Linked DNA regions of Homo sapiens. The gene in region 1 interacts genetically with each later gene. Each region holds a gene or a part of one and is shown in the gene's direction. Other genes may lie near its edges.

Region 1 (3,500 bases):
TAATCCAAGACTGCAAAAGCAATTGGCTGTTGCAAGAAAAAAATATATATTTTATATATATATTATATATATATAATGACAAATTGGTTTCCTGAACATTGAAAGGAAAATAGTTGTTTTCTTTATCAAATAAAACTTTATAAATAGTATGTCACTGTTGGAAAGAAAATGTATTGTGGTATTTAGGAATTAAGTCCGTCTAAGTAGATATGGTATAAGAGCTGGATTCTGGTTTTCTCTGGCTTAAACTTCTCTAAAATAAATGAATAATCAGCCCTACACAGGAAGGACATTTTAAGATAAATAATAACAAATGATCTGATTTTATTATAAAATTATAGATACATTGAGAATTCAGTGAGAGTGTAATATCAGCACTTATCAAAAACTTACCTGAGAAATTAAATGTAAATTGTATTTACCTGAGAAACAGGTATAGAAAGCTCTTGCATGACATTCTTTATATAGTTGGCCCTCTGTATCTGTAGGTTCTGCATCCATGGATTCAACCAACCGCAGATAGAAAATATTTGGGGAAAAAATTGCTTTCTGTAGCGAACATGTTCAGACTTTGTTTTCCTATCATTAGTCCCTGAATAATGTAACAACTATTTATATAGCATTTACATTGTATTAGGTATTATAAGTAATCTAGAGATGATATGAAGTATATGGGAGGATGTGTGTAGGTTATATGGCAACACATTTTATATCAAGGACTTGAGCATTCGCAGATTTTGGTATCCTTGGGAGGTCCTGAACCAAGCCCCCACAAGATACCAAGGGACAACTGATTGCATTGAAGCTTTGGTTGGGCTTGAACAGTTTTAAAAACAACCAAAACATTACATTGCTATTACTTCTGCTGCTTATATTAATATTTTAAAAAGGAATGGCCTCGTATATCAAGGGTCATGTAAGTATTTTACCTTGTTAATAGCTCTTTTGGAAACTTATCCAAAGTAAGAATACAAAAGAAAGAAGTTATAAGCACAAAGCTTCCCCTGCCCAGATTTGTTTTAAAATAACAAAAAGTTTGACGCAACCTAAATGTCTAACAAGAAGGGAAAAGCATAGCTTCTAAATGAAAACTAATTTGATCATTTAAAATGTTCATTACAAAGATTATATAGAATCATGGGGAAATTCTTAAGATATAATGAGAGCAGGATGTAAAATTATATGTTAAAATGTATGTGTGATAGGGAAAAGTAGAAGGGAAAATTCAAAAATAAAAAATAGTAATTTGGTTAGAATAGTGATTCCATGAATGATTTTTTTTTCCCTTACATCTCAACCATATTGTGTTTGTTGTATGTGTGGTTTTGTAATGAAATAGACCATGTCAAGTCCTATTTAGGAAACTAGACCAATTTTGGCTGGTATTGGATTGGCCCTATAGGTACGATATCAGGTCTCACAACTTTTGGAAATGAGATAGGCCAGAAAACCCCATTTACCCTCACGCAAATAGTTAAGATTTAAAAATCGTTAAAATCTGTTGATTTAAGAGCTTCTCTTTCTGCTTATTAGTTTGTTATATTGGGATTATGAGAATACATTCTTGATTACTGCATGTCACATTTATGAGTGTTTTATATCCCAGAGTGGCTTGGGCTTTTTTTCTTTCTTTTTTTGTTTTAAAATTCTTAGACATTCGCTTCACAATGAGATTATATTAAAAGCCATGTAGAACCTTTGGATATAAGGATAAAGTAATGTTTAATTTTTTTTTTTTTTTTTTTTTTTTTTTACAGGAAAGAGCTGATCCTCTCTGGCACTTTAAATCCAATTAAGGATTTACATCTGGGAAAACTCGCCTTAACCAAGTTTCCAAAGAGTCCAGAAACATGGATTCACAGGTGTGGTTAATTTACAACATAGTACTCTTACTTAGGATTCAGACTGGCTGGAGAAAGAAACATGACATGTGAGAGGCAAGGTTACTTATTGGTTCCAGAGCATGAATTCTGAAGTCAGGTTACCTACATTTAAATCTAGGAGCTATATAACTTGCTACCTAAGTGTTCATGGGAAATTACTTAACTCACCAAGCCTCAGTTTTCTCATTTGTAAAATGAGAATAATAATTACACCTGTCTCATATAGTTAACAGTCAAGTTTACGTGAGTTAATGCATGTAACACTCCCACAGTGCCTGGCACATATTAAATACTCAATAAATGTTAGCTATTATTAACTCTTTGAAGCAGTTGTGGGCATTGCATTTATAGATACTCAACTGTAATGAGCAATATGGATTTTAAAAGCATTTGGTTGTTTTCCTGGTAAAGATGTTGGTGGTGATGGTTGTGGTTATTAAAATTAACTTACAGAGAAAGCTGAGGGCAGCTGAAGCGAATGCTGTGTAGGCTGAGCTAAAGTTGCTAAAATCCATACATACAAAGAACATTTTTAGGTTAAAAGCATGGGACAGATAGCCAGAATGCACTTTAGGACTCTCAAAATCCTGGCCACCTGGAACCATCTTCCTCTTGGACCCTGTGTAACTACTCTTATTTGACCAAAATGGGATGGTGTGGGCTTGCTAGTCAGGACCAATGAAGAAGTCACTCTGAAATTCTCAGTTTATTAAGCCACTCTAATTTTTCTTAAATCGTGGGCATTTTTAGGATCTTATGTCCGTTCCAGGTGTCTTAGTGGTAATCGTGCCTTTAGTTAACATTGCAGGTCAGCTTCTTCCAAACCACATAGTCAGTTATATTTTCTTCATCACCAGAAATTGAGATAGTATACCACAGAAGGGTATATGACTGTGTGTATGGGGGTTTGGAAAGGGATGGTGGCAGGGGAAAGGAACTGTTAAATATGCATCCATCAGTTTGGCTTGTCTAATTTTTTTTATCAAGCAATATTTTGTTGTTAAATAAGAAATTCCATTATTTTAAAATGACAAAGTGAGTTTTCTTACTTAATTTCCTGTACCTTTGGGTTTGAAATCTTTAGTCTAAAAAATGCTTTTATATAAGTAAATTACTGGTACAAAGTAAACACATTAAGTAGCTCGAAACACTATTTAGTGTTTTTTATGTAAATACATGTTAATGCAAATCTTAAACAGACAAAGGGAGAATTTGTGGATAAGGATATTTTGACACCTTCTTAATGGTTTAATGAATTATATTTGTTACCTTCCAGATTTTATGCTATAATACAGAATTTTGCTGAATGAAAGCTATCAGAATGCAGCTTCTTGTTTGCAAACAAATGCACATAGGGTGAGGCATGCATATATACTTAAAGATGTGAATCATGACTCCTTATAATATTTATCAGCCATTAATTTATGACCTCTCACCACGACCACACACACACACACCAATTGCCTTTACATTTCCTGGCCAAGTGGAGTTTTGGGATTGTCATTTTAGAAGTAATGACATTCTCTGTATTACAGATTTTAAAGTTTTTTTTTTTTCCTGTTTATCCATTTTCCACCCTTCATCCATACTGCTAAATTAGTATCATCATAAACAACA
Region 2 (3,500 bases), on another chromosome or scaffold:
GAAAGGAAATGGAGCACGCACTGTGAAGTTTTTTTACGCCTTGCGTTTGTTTTTTTAGGAGGAGTATGTGTCTGTGATGGTTTATTCACACTCTCTCGCTCTGTCTTTTTTACGCATTTATTTCCGAATGACTCACTGGGATTAGAGATACAGTTTGATTCTGTATTTTTCGATAAACACACAGAAGCTAACTTAATGGCAGGGTATTTAACATGAGACACTGGTCATTTTATAAGGAAGCTAATGAACTGAGTTAGCCACCACCGTCCTTTAGTCAAGTTTCGATGGTTTTGAACATTTGTTACATTTTGGATTTCAATTCAAGGTGGCAATAATTCACCTATTTTGCCCTGCTTTTTTCTGCCCAACTCTAATTATGTCCTTTGCTATCTGAGGCATGGTTTCTGAATGAGAAATATATCTCTGCATTTCCGGAATAAAGTTAGGAAAGAGGAAGATGCGGTATAACTGTTCTTTTTTGTGCTCTGTAGATATGCAAAGCCTAGAGAAGCTATTGAAAGATGCCATTGTTTATGGTCAGCCTCGGACACGAAGGCCCTGGAAGAAAATTCTCATCCTTGTGGAAGGAATATATAGGTAATCCTGCTTTATTATTCTTACCTTTGTGACTTGGCCCCATGAAGTCATAGAATTTTTTAACTGAAGGGAACATTAGTCTATCCCCCTCTGGAAACTAAGGAGACAGTGTTTATAAGTCGCTAAAATACCTGGAAACAGAGTCAGCATTAGAACAGAAGTCTTTTTGTCTAGTTCTTCGTTATTCTTTCCATAATACTACATGGTCACCAAATCCCCTTTCTATTTGAGTCTTTTATTTTTCTAGTTTGTAGAGGGAACCTATATGTAGGGGCAAGAATTGGAATATATATTTTAATATGTCAAAACAAATTACACACCATTTAATTTTAATAAATATTTTATTTTAGGCTGAGTGCAGTGGCTCACGCCTGTAATCCCAACACTTTGGGAGGCAAAAGTGGGAGGTCGCTCGAGGCCAGGAATTTGAGACCAGCTTGGGCAACATAGTGAGACCCTGTCTCTGTAAAAAATAAATAAAAATTAAAAAGAAATATTTTATTTTGGTTAACCTTTACAGCTTTTACACGTATTTTTACCACCTAATTTTTTTTGTTCTTTTGTGTCATTTTAATTGCCTGTGCAACGTGATGCAAAGTCTCATGTTGCCTGTAATTACAAGCTTTAGAAGAATCTGCTGTGACCTTAATTATTTTTGTCGTGAATTAAGATTGCTTGTGTTTGGTGCTTGTTTTTTGTTTTTTGGTGGTTTGGGTGGCTTTTTTTTTAAGATGGAATCTCGCTGTGTCACCCAGGCTGGAGTGCAGTGGCGGGATGTCGGCTCACTGCAACCTCCGCTTCCCGGTTCTCCTGCCTTAGCCTCCCGAGTAGCTGGGATTACAGGTGTGTGCCACCAAGCCCAGCTAATTTTTGTATTTTTAGTAGAGACGGGGTTTCACTGTGTTGGCCGGGCTGGTCTCGAACTCCTGACCTCAAGTGATCCGCCTACCTCAGCCCACCAAAGTGCTGGGATTACAGGTGTGAGCCACCGCGCCCAGCCAGTGCTTGTTTTAAAAGTCCAGTTTTCTTTCCCCTAGTCTTTTGCCTTGCCATGGCTTCATCTACCTTTGTCAGTTTAAGCCACAGATACAGTTGTCAGACCATTTAAAACCCAATAAACTCAGCCGGGCAGGGTGGCTTATTCCTGTAACCCCAGAACTGTGGGAGGCCAAGGCGGGTGTATCACTTGAGGCCAGGAGTTCGAGACTAGCCTGGGAAACATGAGGAAACCCTATCTCTACTAAAAATACAAACATTATCTGGGCGTGGTGGTGGCGGGCACCTCTAGTCCCAGCTACTTGGGAGGCTGAGGCACAAGAATCGCTTGAACCCAGGAGTCAGGGATTGTAGTAAGCCGAGATTATGCCACTGCACTTCAGCCTGGACAATGGAGCAAAACTCTGTCCCAAGAAAAAAAAAAGAAGCAGTAAACTCAATAATAATGAAGTGCCAAACTCCCAATTTTGATTTAAAAAGTCTCAGTGTATATGTGTATATATATATTTTTTCATGTTTTGCCAGCATGGAGGGATCTATTGTTCGTCTTCCTGAAGTGATTGCCCTCAAGAAGAAATACAAGGCATACTTGTATCTGGATGAGGCTCACAGCATTGGCGCCCTGGGCCCCACAGGCCGGGGTGTGGTGGAGTACTTTGGCCTGGATCCCGAGGATGTGGATGTTATGATGGGAACGTTCACAAAGAGTTTTGGTGCTTCTGGAGGATATATTGGAGGCAAGAAGGTAAACGAGCCATGAGAATGAGCGATTAGAGATAAAGTCACTGGCAATTAGATTTGGTACCTCAGGCCTAGCAGATGGGGCCCTGAACTGGGATGTCCGCAAATTTGCCTCTGGTTTAGGCTCATAATACCAGTGAGTGACTCTAATGTCTCCTCACTGAACTAAAGGCTGGTTCTGTTCATTGTTTGTTGTTTTCTTATTTGAGCTTCTTTCTAAGCTACATGCTGATCTGAGATATAGAATACCCTCTTGTGTGAAAGAACACACAGTGGTGCTCCCTGCCCGCCCCAGCCTTCTGTTGGGTTTGCATTGTGCTCACAGTTTCAAAAACAGTGGGGTTGTCATGGGAGCCCATGGGAATAGCAGGTCACCTTGCCCTTGGACACAAATATATCATGAGTGAACATGGAGACAGGAAGCAAAAAAGTTGTGCCAGCTGTGGGGTACTACAAAGCATTGTATTTTTCAATTTTTAAACTATGAAGTTGCCTTTTCTGGGTCTTTGTAGTCAGAAAAAAATCATACGGTGAATTTTGATGCAGGTAAGAATCTGTGGTGTGGTCGAAATGGTGAACCATAAAGACAGAGGCCTGGGTCTGAATATTTCTCGGCTTACTTTGTTAGACCTCAGGGAAAACATTTAACCTCCCAGTTTCCTTGTCAGTAAAATGGAGATAAATATGCCCAGCTTGTAAGATTGTAGTAAGGGTTTAAAAAGTAATATATGTCCATGCTACAACGTGGGTGCACCTTAAAAACATTATGGTAAGTGAAAAAAGTCACAAAAAGTCACATATTGCATGTTTTAAAATATGTGATACCTAGAATAAGCATAGAAACAGAAAGTAGATTAGTAGTTGCCGGAGGCGGAGGGGATAGGGAAATGGAAAGTGAATGCTAATGGGTATGAGGTTTCCTTTCAGGGTTATGGAAATGTTCTAAAATTAGTGGTAAAAGTGGCACAACTCTGGATATACTAAAAACCACTGAATTGTGCTTTAAAACGGTGAATTCTGTGTATGTGGCTTATATCACAATGAAGCTGTTATTTTTAAACGTTGATTGCAATGTTAGGGAAAAAATAATGTATGTCAGGTATTTGTATATGGCACAGAGGAGGTGCTCATAAATGTTCTTAATTTTGCTTCACCACTCAATATTC
Region 3 (3,500 bases), on another chromosome or scaffold:
TTTAAATTAACACATGGAAATAAAAATGATTTATTTTGTTCTTGTTGTTTTTTTTAATAGTTATTTGGGATTTGATCATGCTGCAACATTATTTCACATCCGAGACAGCCCTGCTGATCCTGTGGAAAGGCCAATTTACCTTACTAACACTTTCAGTTTTGCGATCCTCATTCACGATGTGTTGCTACCAGAAGAAGCCAAAACAATGTTTAAAGTATGTCCAGGAGCCCTCATACTTTTAATTTTCCTGGTCTACCAACTAGGTGATGCTGACACTTTGTTTTTTTTCTCTTCTGTCATTTCTCAGGTTCACAACTTCAGCAAACCAGTCTTAATTCTTCCTAATGAATCAGGATACATTTTTACCCTGCTTTTTATGCCTTCCACATCATCCATGCACATTGATAACAACATTTTACTTATTACCAATGCTTCTAAATTTCATTTACCCGTGCGGGTATACACAGGCTTTTTAGATGTAAGTATATTATCCATCTTTAACATTTAAACTCCCTGCCCACCTTTAATGTTTTCAGATCTTATTAGGCAGTCGTGTTACATACGGTTTGCCATTATTTGTGCTCTGCAAATTGATCTAATTCTCCTAGTCAGTTTTTACCTTTCCAGGTAACTAGTTTTTACCTTTTCTGGCAGCTCTCTCTTGTGATACAGTTGACTTCTCTAGTTACAGTCTCTACTTAGATCTTTTCCACATTCTGCTTTCTCTTGGATATGCTTTTAAACTATTGTAATAATGGGGAATATAGAAAAGAACTAAATAGAAAAATGATAGGTAGAAAAAGAATAATACAAGGAAGGTGAAGAGGGATATACGTAGGGAAGAGATGATCAAAACCAAGAAATATCGGGACAAAGAAGAGAATCAGATAGTAAAGAAGAAAATAAGGTAGTAAAGACGCAAAGTTGGAAGATTATATATGACACAGAAGGAAACAATGAAGGTACTCCTGGTACAGAAAATAAGCAGGGGGAAAAATTCCAAACAAAGCTATCTTGAGAGTGATCAATGAAAGAAGCTTAGATAAGAGAGAAAACTGTTAGGAAAGATAAAAAGAAAGCTAGGACATCTAGAAATGTAGCCCTTTAAATAGTTGGCATCGATTAGAATTTTAGAGCTGGAGGGACCTTCAGTAATGTCTCGCTCCTGCTTCAGTTATTTTGTTTCAGTGATCATTGGTGATGCTTGCTGAGACCACATGCTTTTTGCCCGATCCCCTAGGGTTCCACTAAACCTCTCTTAGTAGTTTAGCTTCCTGCCTCTTTCATGTGCCCTCAGAGGAAGAATAGCAACTCAGCAGAAGCCATGGCTGTTTTCATTTCTGATTACTCAAAAGACTTTCGTCATACAAAGCCCTCAACTATGTCGTATAAATGTGTGGTTTTATGCATATATACAAAAGCATAGGAAAGCATAGAACTGTAATTTTTTTTTTTTTTAGATGGAGTCTCGCTGTGTTTCCCAAGCTGGAGTGCAGTGGTGCAATCTTGGCTTGCGGGTTCAAGCGATTCTCCTGCCTGAGCTCAGCCTTCCGAGTAGCTGGGATTATAGGTGCACACCACCATGCCCAGCTAATTTTGGGGGGAACTTTAATACATCTTTAATATAGTTACTTTCTCTTCATAATATTGTTAGATCAATGTGACTTTTTTTTAATCTGGTTCTTTTATATCTTTCCAGTACTTTGTATTGCCCCCCAAAATAGAGGAACGTTTCATAGATTTTGGAGTACTGAGTGCTACAGAAGCAAGTAATATTTTATTTGCAATTATAAACAGCAATCCAATTGAGGTAAAAACCTGTTTTTATTCTAAATCACATTTAAGGATTTTATGCTTGTGTTGTGATAATCATTTTCATATCTTTTTTTAAAGTTGGCTATAAAAAGTTGGCATATCATAGGAGACGGTTTATCAATAGAACTTGTAGCTGTGGAAAGAGGCAATAGAACTACAATAATTTCAAGCCTGCCAGAGTTTGAAAAATCCTCTTTATCAGATCAATCATCGGTAAGTAAACTTTCTATTGTCTCCTTAAAGTAAGATGGATGTCTAAACTGCAAGTGGAAGATCATTGCTATGCTACATGTATCACTATTATTTTTATGCAGTTCATAATAGTGTTGGTTACTTGCTATTAAAAGGACCTTATAGGTAATGTAATTCAACCCCCTATTTTTATGATGAGGGCACTGAAACCCAAAGGGGTTTAATTCTGCCTTGTCATAAAAAGTTCTATAACACACAAATTTTTAATTATCTTTTTGTAACACAAGTGTCATTACAGGAGAGATTCCCATGGGTACTAAACTAACCTTGTGTTCATTGAGTTTACTGGGAAAAAGAGATGGCCCTGAACATTGGTAGAAAATATTTTCAATTATGCAATAATACGTCTGTCCAGATACTGCCTCAGTATCAGTGAGGCAAACATTGTTTGATCACTGTGAGTCTGCCCACATATTTTTACCTGTCTAATAAACATGTTACAGTTGGTTGTCAGAGAGCGCTAAACAAGAGAAAACAAATTTATTAGTTTCAGCACTCACCAGTACTGAAAGGGGAACTTGGAGTTTATACCTACTGGGAAAAGAATTAGAATCACAATCTGTGAGAAGGAGCATCAGATAATCTCATCTGCAGGTTAGAATAGAATTTCTTGGGGCAGTTTTACAAAAGGAAAAGCAAGTGTCCTTATACACAGAGAGTGTTGACAAACACGTTTCCGTGGAATGCCATAGGTCTGGTGTTTTGTTATATCTGACCTCAGCTGCCCTGAAGATATGAATATTAACATTACAGAGTGACATCCACAGCTTGAAGCAGAGCCAGCTGTGTATACAATTGTGGCTCCAGTGTGCCTGAAAGGTTGGTGGAAGGCTGTGTCCCTCTGCTCCAGCCCCTTTGGCCATACAGGTCCATGGGTAAAGAGTGAGGAGCTTTATTAGCAAGAGGACCACACCCCTCCCTCTTTCAGGAACCAGCTTTTTCAGTGGCCCATGGAACAAGTGTAGTAGAGAAATATCAAGGGATGGACACTATTTTGAGATATTTGTACACAGTGATATGGTAATTCAGTGTCATACTGGTATATGTTAGGATTTGTTAGTCATTTTATCGCTACACCCTTCATGTCCATTTTAATAGGAAACTTCAACTAACAAGGCTAATGAATGATACCATTTCTACTATCTACAGGTAACATTAGCTTCAGGCTATTTTGCAGTCTTCAGAGTCAAACTTACTGCAAAAAAATTAGAGGGGATTCATGATGGAGCCATCCAGATCACAACAGACTATGAGGTAAGGACTTTATGGGGATTCATGGCAGTGGGGTTTTTCTGAATAAGTCAGTCCTTTCTTGTCTTTATGAAACCAAAGAATTAAGTTTACTCAGAGTTACAGTTTACCAGTTTCATACCTTAAAAACTGAGCTTTCGAGAATAGTTTATAGAATATTGATGTTCATAGGCTCATAGTTT
Region 4 (3,500 bases), on another chromosome or scaffold:
TTTTAATAAATTATCTTGCCTCCTTTGTTAGTACTATGGCAGATAATATGATAAATGGAGCACTTGCTTTTATTGATGAATTCACCATTTTCACTCTTGTTTTAGGTTTTCACTCTTTTTTTAGGTTTATTAAAATTTCTTAAAAAAAAAAACCAACAAAGTGCCATTTATGGAAGGTTGCTCTAAGTTCTCAGGGTCATGAGGAACATAAAAACAGCACTAGCCATTTTGTATGCCAGGCACATTGCTGTGCACCATTATCTCATTTAGTTCTCATAATAATTAAGTGTAGACACTTACTATCCTTAACCTTGTGGTTGAGGAAGCTGGAATTTAGCTCATTAAGAAACTTGCCCTTTGCTAGTGATGTGGATTAAAAAAAAAACTTGTCCAAGGTCATATAGCAGTTAGTAGCAGAGCTTATCGGCGAAAGAGGTCCCTTGATTTCCAAAACCTGATGTGATGCCAGACTCACAGAAGCTGTCTACACTGTCAGCCGGGATAGCCCAGCTGTGTCATCTCCATCCCACCTTCCGGCTACCTGAGTCTTGAGTTGCTGTGGGTCCTTGTCAGCATTTCTCCCTATCTTTTTCTTGCTGTGTCCCACTCTTACATTCTTTTCCAAGTTCTTAGGAGGTTGTCTGTAGGTGTGTTTCATCAGGTACCTGGTACTGAATTGGCATTAAAAAAATTTTTTTATTGATGCATAATTTGCATAGTTTGGGTGTGCAAGTGATAATTTAATGTATTCATATAATTTGTGAAGATCAAATCAGTGTACTTGGGATATCCATTACCTTAAATATTTGTCTTTTTGTTAGAACCAGTCAAATTCTTCTCTTCTACCTATTTTGAAATACACAGTAGATTATTGTAAACTATGGTTACCCTACTTATCTATCTATCACTAGGTCTTATTTGAATAGACATTTAAATGTCATAATGGTGAGCAAATATATCAGGCTAACATCTGTATGACAGTGAAACAAAGGATTGATTAATATCTTTACATTGTAGTGATCAAAGAAGGAGAAGACTGCTCATCTACAAAGACTACAGCACATCTCTTCTAGCTATTTACTGTCACATTGAGGCAGCTATGGAATTAAAGGATTTTCTAAGGAACCTGCTTAATCTAGTCATCCCATCAGCATGTCAGCACGTAGGCTTCGTGAAGGCAGAGGCTCTCTGCTAAACCACTGGAGCCCACATGTAAAGCAGTTCTTGGCACTTAGAAAGTACTGAATAAATATTTGGGTTTTTGTTGTTGTTGTTTGAGACGGAGTCTTGCTCTTTCGCCCAGGCTGCAGTGCAGTGGCGCGATCTCAGCTCACTGCAACCTCCACCTCCTGGATTCAAGCAATTCTCCTACCTCAGCCTCCCAGGTAGCCGGGAATACAGGTGCACGCCACTATGCCTGGCTAATTTTTGTATTTTTAGTAGAGACAGGGTTTCACCATTTTGGCCAGGCTGGTCTCAAACTCCTGATCTCAGGTGATCCAAAATGCTGGGATTACAGGCGTGAGCCACTGCGCCGGGCCTGAGTAAACGTTTGTTGAATGAAGTATCCTTTAACTTGATACAGTATAGCTCTTTTGATAAAGGTTATAATTGAATGCTAGTTCATCATTTACTGAAAATACTACAGTTTTGTTCTAGAGATTTCATATTTCTCTGGTAGCCTGTGATATGGATTCTGTTCATATTAAGATATTTCGTTGTTTTTCTTTTTTCTATTTACAGATCATCTCTGGGTGTTGTTTCCAGATGTCTGTATGGTAATTGCATCAGAAATTGCCGTGGATATTGTAAAACATGCCTTTATTACTAAATTCAATGACATTACTGCAGATGTATGTATTTTGATATGCACTTCAATGTTTAAAGTTTACTTCTGTTGCTTAATTTTTAAAAGTTGTAGAATAATAGGAGTTTGTTAATACTTTAAGGTCAGAATTGTAATTTTAAGTTTCTAAAAATTATTACACTATTGAAAGTATTCTGTTTTAATATTAGGCAATGATAATTCCATATTCTTGGGGTAGAAGTATAGACCAGCCAGTAGTCGAAGTCACAGTGTCACTAACTCAAAATCATTCTGATCAGTTAACACTGTCATAATCTGTTTAAAGACTTTAAAATCACATTGTTTCTATTTTAAAACTTAGACCATCAAAATTTTTCTCTCTGGCTAGGTTTTTAAAATATTTTATATTTAAAAGTTGATTTTTTTCCACGATTATGAATAGGTTCCTGCTAAGTTTTAGAAGACGAGAGCCTACATTTTTCTGGTGAAAGTGTTTAAACTTTGAGAAATTTGTTTTATGTTCTAACCAGATGTTCTGGATAATTTCTAGAAATAGATATGTGGCTATAGATTTATTGCATATAAAACATAAGAAAGTTTCCTAATGTAGTTCTCATTCCTGTCTCAGTCCCAAAATAAATAATAGTTCCACAGTTTTCTAGATTTTACTGGGTAGTACTTTTAATAACAGTCTCACAGTAATATTTGTTTTGTTTCAAAAGGCAATTATTTAAAATAAAATGCAGTTGCAACAACTGTGATTCAATTATGAGTTTCTGAATGTTTTAATATACTTAAAGTAAATACAGTTTTGTACTTTTTTGTAAAGCATTGATAAAGTAATTTCACCATTTACTTTCTCAGCTTTCTTAATGCAGAATGATTCCCTTTTCATAGGATCATTTATTTAGCATCTGAAGTCAAAATTAATAGGCTTGATTGAGACACTTGTGCACTTTTTAGTGGTAATGATCATTCACAAGTGCCTTCATATTTACTATGTTCCCTAACTTAGTTTTATGTCTTTTTCAGCATTCATTTTTCTCAGAAGGCATTATTATGGTTAGACAAACAGTAATTTTTTTAAACTATTCATTTAATTTAAAATTTCAAAATTATTTTATATACATTACACTACTTAAAATAGTCACTTTTCCCCAAATTCTAAACTCTCAGGATCATAGTCGTTGGATATTTATTCCCCTTTAAAGAAAAACCTTTAGAAGATCTATGAATGTTAACAGTTCGGTGGAATTGAGGTTACATTTTACCTTTACTGTAGGAAAACAAATAAGAAATTATGCCCAGATGTCAGCTTGGTTATTAGCACTTGTTCCTGGTTAATTATTAAATGTTTTTATTAATAAAGTTGCAGTCTTTCCACATTATATATTTTTACTGTATTACTTGATATTTCATTCTTGTTTGTTTTTAGGTCTACAGTGAATATAGAGCCAGTCTTGCTTTTGACCTTGTTAGCAGCCGACAGAAAAATGTGAGCATTTATCAAGGGCGTAGTCTGAAATTAACAAAGGCATAGTCTGAAATTAACTGAATAATGATTAATTTAGCATGAAATATTAACTAAAGGAAAGCTACATAAACTGCCTACTGATCTCTATTCTCAACACTAAATAAACATTTACAAATTAAGAATAATAGTAATACTTAACATTAAGTAGTATATGCTCTT
Region 5 (3,500 bases), on another chromosome or scaffold:
TATTTTTGTACTTTTAAAGAAAGCAGCTTGCATTTAATTAGAAAGAATGGACCTAAAGGGAACCTCGTTGTCAGGGAAATGAATTAGAACTGGTTATAATACACAGGAGTTATAAAAATTGTTTCTCTTGGGTAGGACCTCTCAACCTTGAGACTTGGTGTTTTGGGCCAAATTAATTCAATAGTGTGGGAAGCCCTCCTGTTCTTTGTAGGATGTTTAGCAGCATCTCTGGCCTCTTAGCCCATTAGGTGGTAGTAGCACCCCCAATTGTGACAACCAACAATGTCTCCACAAATTGCCAAATGTCCCTTGCAGGGCAAAATCATCCCAGTTGAGAACCAATGTCCTGAGATGCCTAGAAATGTGTAGAAATGGGATTGCTGAGCTGTAGGGTTTAACAATGTTCAGCTACACTAGTAATGCCAAAGTGGCTTTCTGCAGAGGTTGTGCCAATTTATACTCTAACCAGCTATGGTTAAGAACTTCTTTTGCTCCACATTTTCACCAACATTTTTTATTTTCAATTTGACTTTTTACTTTTTGCTGATCAGATTTGTCGTTGATATTATTTCCTTCATTACTAGTGTGGTTGAAGATCTTTTCAGATATTTGACTATTGAACTTTCATTTTCTGGAAGTGTCAAGTCTTTTTTATCAACTTTTTTCTGTTAGATTATTTGTCTTTTTTCTTCTTGATTCATAGACATTCTTTATATATTCTAAATTCTAAATTCTTTTCCTCCTCCAGTTTTACCTTGGTTTTTCCCCTCCCCTCTGTCTATGGCATCTCAATGAATAGAAGTTCTTAATGTAGATGGCATGTGGCTTGTGTTTTTTGTGTCTTGGAAAATCTTTCCTTACACTGAGATCATAAAGATATTTTTCTGTATTGTCTTCTATAGTGTGCGATAGGCATTCAATTCCCTTTTTCTTTTTTTTTTTTTTGCCATAGGGAAATCAGCTATTCTAGCATCATTTATTGAACAGAGTCTCTTGTCCCTACCAATTTGCAGTACCACCTGTCTTATATATCAAGTATTCATTAGTGTGTTTCTGGCCACTTAATTCTGTTTTATTGGTTTATTTGTGTATCCTTGTGCCAGTGCCACCCTGTTTTAATTAATGTAGTTTTATGTGTCTTGATAACTGATAGGGTAGCTTCTTCCACCTTGTGGTCTTTCTTCAGAAATGTTTTGGCTGTTCATGGACCTTTCCACTCCTGTATGCATTTTAGGATTTGCTCATCAAGTTTCACAGAAACTCTGTTGGTCTTTTTATTGGGAATTAATTGCTTCTATATAGACAGTTTGGTGAGAGTCAGCACTTTTGCTATACTGAGTTTTCTTATCCACCAATGGGATATAATTTCAACATATTTTGTAGTGTCTTTCATTAAAATTTTATTGTTTTCTCCATAAAGATCTTATATACTTTATGTTAGATTTATTCCTAAGTAGTTTATATTTTTTGAAACAATTATATGTGGTATTCCTTAAAATGTTTTGCTTTGTTATTGCTGGTGTATTTTTTGTTGTTTTTTTGTGTGTACATACATAGCAATCTAGATGGCTCTTAATCTTCATGTTTTTCTGGACATAAATTTAGATTTTCAACAACACAATTATCTGTGTATAATGACAGTTTGTTTCTTCTTAGCCCTTTTATCTTTTAAAAAATCCTTTTCTTCATTGGCTAGGACTCAACGACCAGTTTTGTATCTTGTTCTTTGTCTTAGAGGGAATACTTTGTTTCACTAAGTATGATTTTACATTAGGTTTTTTATAGTTTTTTTATTTGTTTAAGGAAGTTCCCATAAATGTCTAGTTTGAGGTTTTATCATGTTGAATTTTAGCAATGTTTTTTCCTCTACCCTTGGAGATAATATAGTTTTTCTTCTTTAATATTAATATAGTATACAAATCAATTTATTTATTTTTAATAAATCAATTTATTTATTTATTTTTAATAGAGATGGGATCTTGCTGTGTTACCCAGGCTGGAATGTAGCGGCTATTCACATGTATGATCATAGTGCACTGCAGCCCCAAACTCCTGGCTCAAGTAATCCTCCCACTTCCTCCTCCCAACTCACTGGGATGCAGGTGCACACCACTGCACCTAGCTCCAGCTCCAGTTGATACTTTTAAATATAAAACCAAACTTAACTTTCAGTTTGCTAATATTCCCTTTAGGATTTTTGCATTTATTTAGTTAATTTAATTTTTATTTATTATTATTTTTATTATTTTGAGACAGGATCTCACTCTGTCGCCCAGGTTGGAGTGCAGTGGTGGGATCTCAGCTCACTGCAGCCTCAATCTCCCAGGCTCAAGCAATCCTCCCACCTCAGCCTCAATAGTAACTGAGACTGCAGGCACACACCGCCATGCGTAGGTAATTTTGTTCATTTTTTGTAGAGACAAGGTCTCACTATATTGCCAGGCTAGTCTTGAACTCCTGAGCTGAAGGGATCCTCCTGTGTTGGCCTCCCAAGTGCTAGGATTACAGGCATGAGCCACCACACCTAACCTTTTGCATTTATTTTATAAGCGAAATCGGCCTGCGATATTGTTAGGTTTTAGTATTACAGTTATATTAGCCTTATCAAATGAATTGGAAAGTATTCCTTCTTTTTCTGTTGTGTTAATTAATTGGTGTAAGACTGAGATTATTTATTTCCTGAACGTTTGCTAGAACTCTGTGCTAAAACCATCAGGACCTGGGGTATTCTTACTGAAAGGTTTTAACTATTGATTCAGTTGGCTTTTCATTTCTTCTTGAATCTGTTTTTGGTAAGTTACGTTTTTTTCCCCAAGAATTTGTCAATGTCATACACATTTTGAGGGGTTATACTTATTTAATTTCAGGAAAATAATGTAGGGGTCACAGCTGAAACTTTCAACGCAACCAAACATTAGTTATTCATACCAACCCTGCAAAAACCAATGCTTGATCATGCATACTGTGTGAAGAATATCAGTATCTGGCATATATTGAATCCTTACCCTGTTTCTGGCACTGCACTAAATGCCTGCTTTTTAAAACAGCTTTAATGAAGTATAATTCACATGCAATAAACTGCACGATAAGTATTGTGCAATTGATAGATTTCAGTATCTTGTACATTTTAAAATTTGATGGCCTAATGTTGTTTATATCTGTCCCAGGGAACCACTTTTGGTTATGCTGATCCTCTCTAGTATGTTTATTTCCTCTTTTGTTAATTTTTGCTTTCTTTGGGTTTGTTCTGCTGTTTTTATAGTTTTTAAGATGGATATACAACTCATTAGTTTTCTTCCTTCCTGCCTTTCATCTTTAATGTAACCAAGGCTATAAATTTCCTTCAGAATACTGCCTTAGATATCATCCCACATTTGGATATATACTTAATTTATTTTTTGAATTTTAATATTTTATTTTTTATATTATTTAAAAATTTTTTGTAGAGACGAGTTCTCACTGTATTGCCCGGGCTGGTCTCCAACTCCTGGACTCAGGCA
Region 6 (3,500 bases), on another chromosome or scaffold:
ATCCTTTTAGAACTGAAAGCCATCCTAGAGATAATCTAGCCCAACTTAGGTTTTGTTCTGTTTTGTTTTTTGATTGAAAAAAAGTTAAGAACCAAAGTGACTTAAAATGTTTCAATCTCCAGATATTTACTGACAGAGGGGTAGGTTTTGTTTTGTTTTTTGATTGAAAAGAAGTTAAGAACCAAAGTGACTTAAAATGTTTCAATCTCCAGATATTTACCGTCGGAAGGGTAAAGCTAGAACCCAGTTCTCCTGGCCTCTCATTATGGTAACAAACAAGAACCTGAAAAATGACATACCCTTGATCCATTCAGTGAAGATTATTGTGTCACCAAGTTATCTTCACCAAGGGACAGTTGCCCTTACATCAATCTCAAGAGATTAAAAACCTCCAAAATGTTCCGTTTTCCGTGGATAACCTGTAATGGGTCAATGGAGTATATGGGGTTGAACCTTACAAAATTGCCAATACTTGATTAATAAAAATGATAGCTTATTATGATTCTTCCTAATTGTAAAAGATGTAAAAAAAAAAAAAAAAAAGGACAAATGTGAGACACTTTCAGTTACTCTGTACTTAACCATTTTATCTTTACCTGTTTTCATAGTAACATTTTCAGTTGTTGGTATCTTTTTGAAGTTCTTAAACTTACTCTCAGCAAATGTAACATAGTACTTCCATTTATTTGTTCTAAATTTAACTTTTTGGCTTCCTCCAGTTTTCTATTTGTAGTGTTCTAGAATTTGGGAATCTCTCACTTTATTTTTTTCATAGTTTTATAGACTGACAACCCTTTGGCCTTGTAGTGTTAAGTCTTAATCTTGCCGGGGATTTTTCAGTTCCCATCCTTGAAAAAATACATTTAATAGCGTGAATTCCAAATGTATATGCAGAGCTTTTATTTGGAAAAATTGACAAGCAATTTAGTGATTCCTGTAAATGTACCACATATTCATGAGTAGTTTATCAGGAAAAAAAAATGCAGCATTGGTCTTCACTACTAATGTCATCGTAATGGTGTATGATATATTGGGCTTTTTAGATGATGTATACAGCTTGATTTTTGCTCCTATAGATTCTAAATTAGGAAGAAATCAGGTCTTAAGAATGAACTAATTTAATATTTTGTTTGCTTATTCCATGCTCAAAGGACAAAGATTTGTTTGAAATTCCTGTTCAGATTGAAAGTACTGTCCAGTTGTATTGTGTTTAATGGTTTTAATTTTTCCTCATTTTTGGATAGTTTTATATAAGGTGTAGCTATTCTGAGGTTTGTATCATCAATCTAATACAGGTTTTCATTTCACCTGAGCCTGGCTTATGAGGTCAGGCCAAAATTTTTTCTGGCCCTTTTAAATATACCATTTGGTCTGTGATAATTTTATGTATGTGTATGTATTTATACGTGTCTGTATATACGCACATATATTTGAAGTGAGTTTCAAATCAGAAAAAGCTTTCAGAGTTGGTCGAGGCGATTTTTGTGCATACTTCAGGTCTTTGTTTAAAAAATTTTTTTAAAAGATTGATGTATTGTGAGGGAAAAAATTAGAAATAACAATTTCAGAGGTTTATTGACCCAAAATAGTTTTGGAATGTGTGATAAACCAGAAATGAATTAGCGTGGGTTGTTGAATTTCATATTCCTTCAAAAGGATTTTTCCGACCTAGTTTAGGTTTGCATGAAATGGATTAGAATTATCTTGCTGAAAAGATTTCTCCACAGTTAAAAAAAGGCCTTTTAATCAATTTACAGAATGACAGACTAAAAAAGTCACAAATTTAAAATATGTATTAATTATAAATTGGACATTACTTATTAGTTTTTTGACTCATTTCTGCTTTTGTTGAAATAGTTTCTTCTGGAAAGTTAATTTATGGAAAACAGACTTCTTACTGACACATTATTTAAACAGTTGGAGATACTGCCCTATTTATATTTACCAGAAATACTGTGTTACTAGAACTTTTTATCAGCATTGGAATTTTTGAAAAACATTTTCAATGGTAACACTAGAAATCTTAATGAAAATGGGGGATGATTAGAATTTAACATGTAGCTTTTAATACTCTGGAAAGCTGTACGTTTTTATTAAAATAGAAATTTCTGTAAAATTAAAGCTTTTAACATAAAGCTTTGATTTTGAACTATAAATATTCTGAGAGCTTTATGACAGTTATCCACACTATCAGGAGTATCCTAAAAATGAGACTATGCTACACTTACATATATTAACAAAAACCTCTTGGGTATGGTCTAAGCAATACCTTATAAACTGTGCTTTTTCTGAAAATTTTTAATTTTTTTTTCCTGATCGAAATCTACCATTCAGGTGTAAATATGTATTATATCTGGCTTTCACTAAAACTTTATTATTAAATTTATTTTCATTTTTTTCTTTTATTGAGATGGGGTCTCACTCTGTCACCTAGGCTGGAGTGCAGTGGCACGATCTCAGCTCACTGTAGCCTCTCCCTTCCTGGCTCAAGCCATTCTCCTATCTCAGCTTTCCAAGTAGCTGGAACTACAGGTGCATGCCACCACACCTGGCTAATTTAAGTAATTTTGGTGGAGACAGGGTTTTGCCATGTTGCCCACGCTGATCTCAAACCCCTGAGCTCAAGCAATCTGCCTGCGCCTGCCTCCCAAAGTGCTGGGTTTACAGGCATGAGCCACAGCACCTGGCCATTATTACTAAATTTAACTGAATATATTTAAATTTACATTCTGCTGATGGGCAAGTTTTACAATATTTTATGTCCTAATGAATAGACTTTTTCTTTATAATCATTTTTTTTTTGCATATTTCCCCTTCCAGAACCTTAGGTCTTTGTTGCAAATAATTGTGATTTTAAGCACCTCATATGTAATCTTATAAAGTACTTGAATGTTTACCTTGTGGAATCTTGTCTTTTTTCCCTAGGCTTTAATAGTAAGCATAAAAAATTCATGTTCTAAAGAATATTGAGAAATTTTAACACTGGAACATTTAAAGGAGTTAGGGGATTTAGATTTCTGAAACTTCTGTGACTGCTGTCTTGCAAGAGTTCCCATTATCTTCCCCCGTCGAAAATGCTTACCAATGGTTGGTTGTTGTTTTCTCTGGATAATTGTGCAGTACCTGATGGCAATGTATTCTTCATAACTGTTTGTTTATTTTTAAGGCCATGGTAGGGGAGGAGTGTGTAGGTGCCATCGTTTGCAAGTTGGATATGCACAAAAAGATGTTCCGCAGAGGTTATATAGCCATGTTAGCCGTGGATTCCAAATACAGGAGAAATGGCATTGGTAAGAAAAATATTATTTTATGGAAAGAATGCCTAAGCTATTTTCATTTTTGTTGTGTTTTGAAATAAAAGACTTAAATGTAAGTATGTAGAAATGAAAGAAACTAAGGGAAGAAAATTAAGGCGGGTTTTAATTTTTAATTTCAAAATGGTATTTTTAAAAAGTTCTTAAAATGAATTTTTTCTTTATTAATGTTTTGTTTGACAGTTT
Region 7 (3,500 bases), on another chromosome or scaffold:
GGTCTGATGAAACCCTGGAAATTCCAATCCCCTGTCAGGACTGAACAGGAAGGCGGCCCCAGCCCTCTGCACAGGCATGTGGGGAACTCGGGCACCAGGAGGTTCTTCGCACCCTGTTTTGAAAGCTGTGATGCGAATTTGTGGTGTTTATCGTATTCCAGCAGCAGTTTAAACAATTGTTACTTTAAATACCCAGCTAGTAAGAACATTTTCCCTTTCTTGTTGCTACCTCTGTGGGATTCAGCCATAAGATTCAGCTCTCTCCTCTTAATGAGTCTTTGTCATATTTTGATGTCCTTGAATGTGTCCTGGGGCTGTTTCAATGTCCTGGGGAGGGGTGTTGGTGCAGCCTCTGACACAGAAAGACCTATGTTAGGGAGTTGGGTTTCAGAGGCTGTGGGCCAGGTTATACACTAAGGTCAAGTGTCCCCACGGGCCACTGCCTTCCCCACAGTCTTCCTGTTTGGCAAGACACCTCCCCATCAGTGTCAAGGATTCCAGAAAACGTGTGTCAGATGAGGAGGGGTTGTCTTTCCTGCTTCAGCCAGCCTCCGGGCATTTTTGAGAACATGTTTCCCAGGCAGAGGGTACTTTGACAGAGGAGTCCATCAGTGTCTTCTCATTAGAGAGGAAAGAGAGGAATGAAAAAAGACTGTGCTGGGGTCAAATGCAGGAGGCCAATGGGAAAATCAAGAAGATTGTGTGGACCCTGACACTGCAGCCTCCTGCTTGGCCAAGCCCACAGCTGTGCACAGTGGCCTGGCTGCTGGGACCATCAGGCTCAGAGGCCAGGCGGAGCAGGGGGAAAGCAACTACATAACTCCCCAGGACCCAGTGGGTGGGCAGAGCCCCCCAGGGCAGCTTGTCATCCTCCCCTGAGTCTGCCTCTTCTCTAAAGCTAGGACACTAAGACTTCTTAGGGTGCCGTGAAGACTAAGTACCTAATACACGTAGACTCTTCACACAGCACCTGACCCACAACAAGCACTTCTTATCATTCCAGATTGTAATCTCAGAGCCCTAGATCTGTCCTGATGATGATGTCTCCATCATCATCATCATTGTGTGTTTACTGCTTTCTTTGTTCATCCAAGGATGGTCCCAGCTACTCTGGAAGCTGAGGCGGGAGGAACTCTTGAGTCCAGGAGTTTGAGGCTGCAGTGAGCTGTGATTGCATCACTGTACTCCAGCCTGGGTGACAGGGTGAGACCTTGTCTCAAAATAATAATAATCACTACAACTATTATAAATAATATTGTTATTCCGGGGAAAATCTACTTGGCGTTCGCCCCTGCCCAGGTGCCATGCTAGACATTCTGGCTCTGTTCTCCCAGTAACCAAAGTGCTGTGTGGCTTGGTGTGAAGTTGCCTCATGCAGACTGGGGAATTTTGCAGACTAGAAGTCAAAAAATCTGTGCTCTATTTCCAGCAGTGTGGCCCTGGGTAGTTTATTTTCTCTGAGCCTTGACTTCCCTTCCATAGAATAAGGTGATTGGACCTTTGGGACTTTTGGAGCCAAAAGGGACTCTCCTCCATAGACAATGCACCGTCTTCCCTACTTTCAGATCATCTGGGGGGCTCCTGCCAGACAGAGTTTGAACCAAGGGCAGGCAGCAGCTGGCCCTGGAGTCCATGGCTGCTCCAGATGGTTCTCTTTATCATCACTTACAGGTTCTACATGTGGGCAGTTCTACAGCTATAGGTTGGTACAAAAACTGCAGTTACTTTTGCACCAGCCTAAATCACCATCACCTACTATGTGCCTACCAAGAGCGTGGCACTGGACTGGGCACAGAGGAGCCGGTGCTGTGCTTGCTTCTGGGGAGATCTGTGCAGAGGTGGATTGTAATAGCCTTTGTGCACTGGCTCCTCGGGGCACCCTTGGAGCCCTGTGGGAGCAATGCAGGACCCACCTTCCTTAAGGAGGGTGTCCTGAGCTAGAGGAACTTCTGGGATTTTCTTAAATGTTGGGGGAAGAAAGCTTAACCTGAGAGGAATGGGTTTTACGAAGGAAGTGAGGAGAGGAGCTAGAGGAGAAGGAGAAGGCAGAACAGGCAGGGGAGTAGGAAGAAAGTGAGACAATGAGGCAGCCAGAGCCGTAGCCACTGCCTGGCGCACCGCAGAGGATCCATCAGCGTTTGCTGGATGAATGGATGACGATGGGTTAAAGCCAAGGAAGACATGGGGTCTCAAGGGGAAGCTGCCTTTTAGCACGAAGAGAGCCCAGCAAAGTGCCGGTCCTGACAGTGATCTTGTCCAGACTCCAGAACACTGGAGACAGCGGAACAGCAGAACACGGTGCCTGATTCAGTGAATGATTTCTGCGTCCCAGGGGTTAAGGGTTTCTATCGAGCTATCTATGCTGCTGCTAATTTCTCTGATAGATGTGTTAGATACGGCATTTGGGGAAAATGGAGTACTCATCTCAGGGGATAATGACACTGTGAGCGCCATATTATTTCTGTGGTGAAGAACAATTTTAAGCCTGTGCTAATAGATTAAGCGACTAGAGTGATTATTTTGAACAAAGAGAGTGGTTGAGAGTTCTACAGCCAGCCTGAGACTAATCAGGAGGAGTAAAGAGTGATAATTTAATCATATCAACCCATAACATGGGATCCTGATAGTGGCTGTCACACTACACCAGCTGAAGGAGGTCTCTGAACCACCCAGACTAAGTTCCAGCTTTTGCTACTTTCTGGCTTTTTGACCTTACATAAGTCACGAGGCCAGGAGGAGCTTCAGTGTCCCCATTTGTAAAATGGGAACACAAATGCCCAAGGCATAAGACATTGTGTGTAAAGAATCAGGACAAGGCATGGGAGAATGTTCAGTAAACTGCAAATGGCTGGGTGGATATTGGGTGCCGTGGGAGCAAGGAAGGAGGTGCATGGTTTGTAAAAACTGCATAAAAGCAAACAGAGTGTGATCATATACCATGAAATGCACAAAGGGGGTGCACTCTGCAGAAAGCCCTATGAACCCCTTCTGTAAAGCAACCCACTCTCCCTCCTTCGTCCTCTCTACACGTTAGCTTTTTGTGACGTGGACATCTGTGTGGGCAGCGTCTGCAGGGCCAGCAGAGCCACTTGTGAACACTGGGGAGAGTGTAAAGGAGGCCCAACAGGAGGCTGCAGGGGACCTTCAGGAACCCTGCGTGTCTTGGACGCTCAGTAACACGACAGGGCAACAGCGTGCCTCCCTGTCACATTTGTGCACACCAGGAAGCCTGCTCTTCGCAGGACTTGGGAAATACACATCACCATTGCCTCCATCGCTTTTTCTGGTGAATTAAGCCCAAAGAATGACATTGGAAAACTTTTTTGTACTCTGATAATTAGCAGTGGATGAATTTCATGGGGATTCTGTTGGACAAACCCTGGAGGCTAAAAATTGAAAAAGCAAAACAAAATAAATGGAGAAAGGTTATCTTTAAATAGATTTAATACTTAGAAAAGATACTGTGGGCAAATAAATAAATATTTAGAGGACTAATGAGA

Evidence for each region.
Region 2: changes in PTAR1 (region 1) and SPTLC2 are lethal when combined (synthetic lethality), as found in Homo sapiens cells (one study listed by BioGRID).
Region 3: changes in PTAR1 (region 1) and TMEM131 are lethal when combined (synthetic lethality), as found in Homo sapiens cells (one study listed by BioGRID).
Region 4: changes in PTAR1 (region 1) and TAPT1 are lethal when combined (synthetic lethality), as found in Homo sapiens cells (one study listed by BioGRID).
Region 5: of PTAR1 (region 1) and GOLGA5, changing one suppresses a phenotype caused by changing the other (phenotypic suppression), as found in Homo sapiens cells (one study listed by BioGRID).
Region 6: changes in PTAR1 (region 1) and NAA30 are lethal when combined (synthetic lethality), as found in Homo sapiens cells (one study listed by BioGRID).
Region 7: changes in PTAR1 (region 1) and ZFAT are lethal when combined (synthetic lethality), as found in Homo sapiens cells (one study listed by BioGRID).

What each region holds. Positions count from the first base shown.
Region 1 is NC_000009.12:69,732,512-69,736,011, reverse strand, and holds part of PTAR1 (protein prenyltransferase alpha subunit repeat-containing protein 1), read left to right. Parts: intron 1-1,757; coding exon 1,758-1,862; intron 1,863-3,500.
Region 2 is NC_000014.9:77,554,138-77,557,637, reverse strand, and holds part of SPTLC2 (serine palmitoyltransferase 2), read left to right. Parts: intron 1-491; coding exon 492-597; intron 598-2,118; coding exon 2,119-2,338; intron 2,339-3,500. UniProt on the Homo sapiens protein: Component of the serine palmitoyltransferase multisubunit enzyme (SPT) that catalyzes the initial and rate-limiting step in sphingolipid biosynthesis by condensing L-serine and activated acyl-CoA (most commonly palmitoyl-CoA) to form long-chain bases.
Region 3 is NC_000002.12:97,810,949-97,814,448, reverse strand, and holds part of TMEM131 (transmembrane protein 131 precursor), read left to right. Parts: intron 1-60; coding exon 61-214; intron 215-307; coding exon 308-478; intron 479-1,699; coding exon 1,700-1,810; intron 1,811-1,893; coding exon 1,894-2,028; intron 2,029-3,216; coding exon 3,217-3,321; intron 3,322-3,500.
Region 4 is NC_000004.12:16,174,472-16,177,971, reverse strand, and holds part of TAPT1 (transmembrane anterior posterior transformation protein 1 homolog), read left to right. Parts: intron 1-1,017; exon of another isoform or gene 1,018-1,288; intron 1,289-1,743; coding exon 1,744-1,853; intron 1,854-3,242; coding exon 3,243-3,302; intron 3,303-3,500. UniProt on the Homo sapiens protein: Plays a role in primary cilia formation. May act as a downstream effector of HOXC8 possibly by transducing or transmitting extracellular information required for axial skeletal patterning during development. May be involved in cartilage and bone development.
Region 5 is NC_000014.9:92,800,805-92,804,304, forward strand, and holds part of GOLGA5 (golgin subfamily A member 5), read left to right. Parts: intron 1-3,500. UniProt on the Homo sapiens protein: Involved in maintaining Golgi structure. Stimulates the formation of Golgi stacks and ribbons. Involved in intra-Golgi retrograde transport.
Region 6 is NC_000014.9:57,393,586-57,397,085, forward strand, and holds part of NAA30 (N-alpha-acetyltransferase 30), read left to right. Parts: intron 1-3,166; coding exon 3,167-3,290; intron 3,291-3,500. UniProt on the Homo sapiens protein: Catalytic subunit of the N-terminal acetyltransferase C (NatC) complex. Catalyzes acetylation of the N-terminal methionine residues of peptides beginning with Met-Leu-Ala and Met-Leu-Gly.
Region 7 is NC_000008.11:134,482,532-134,486,031, reverse strand, and holds part of ZFAT (zinc finger protein ZFAT), read left to right. Parts: intron 1-3,500. UniProt on the Homo sapiens protein: May be involved in transcriptional regulation. Overexpression causes down-regulation of a number of genes involved in the immune response. Some genes are also up-regulated.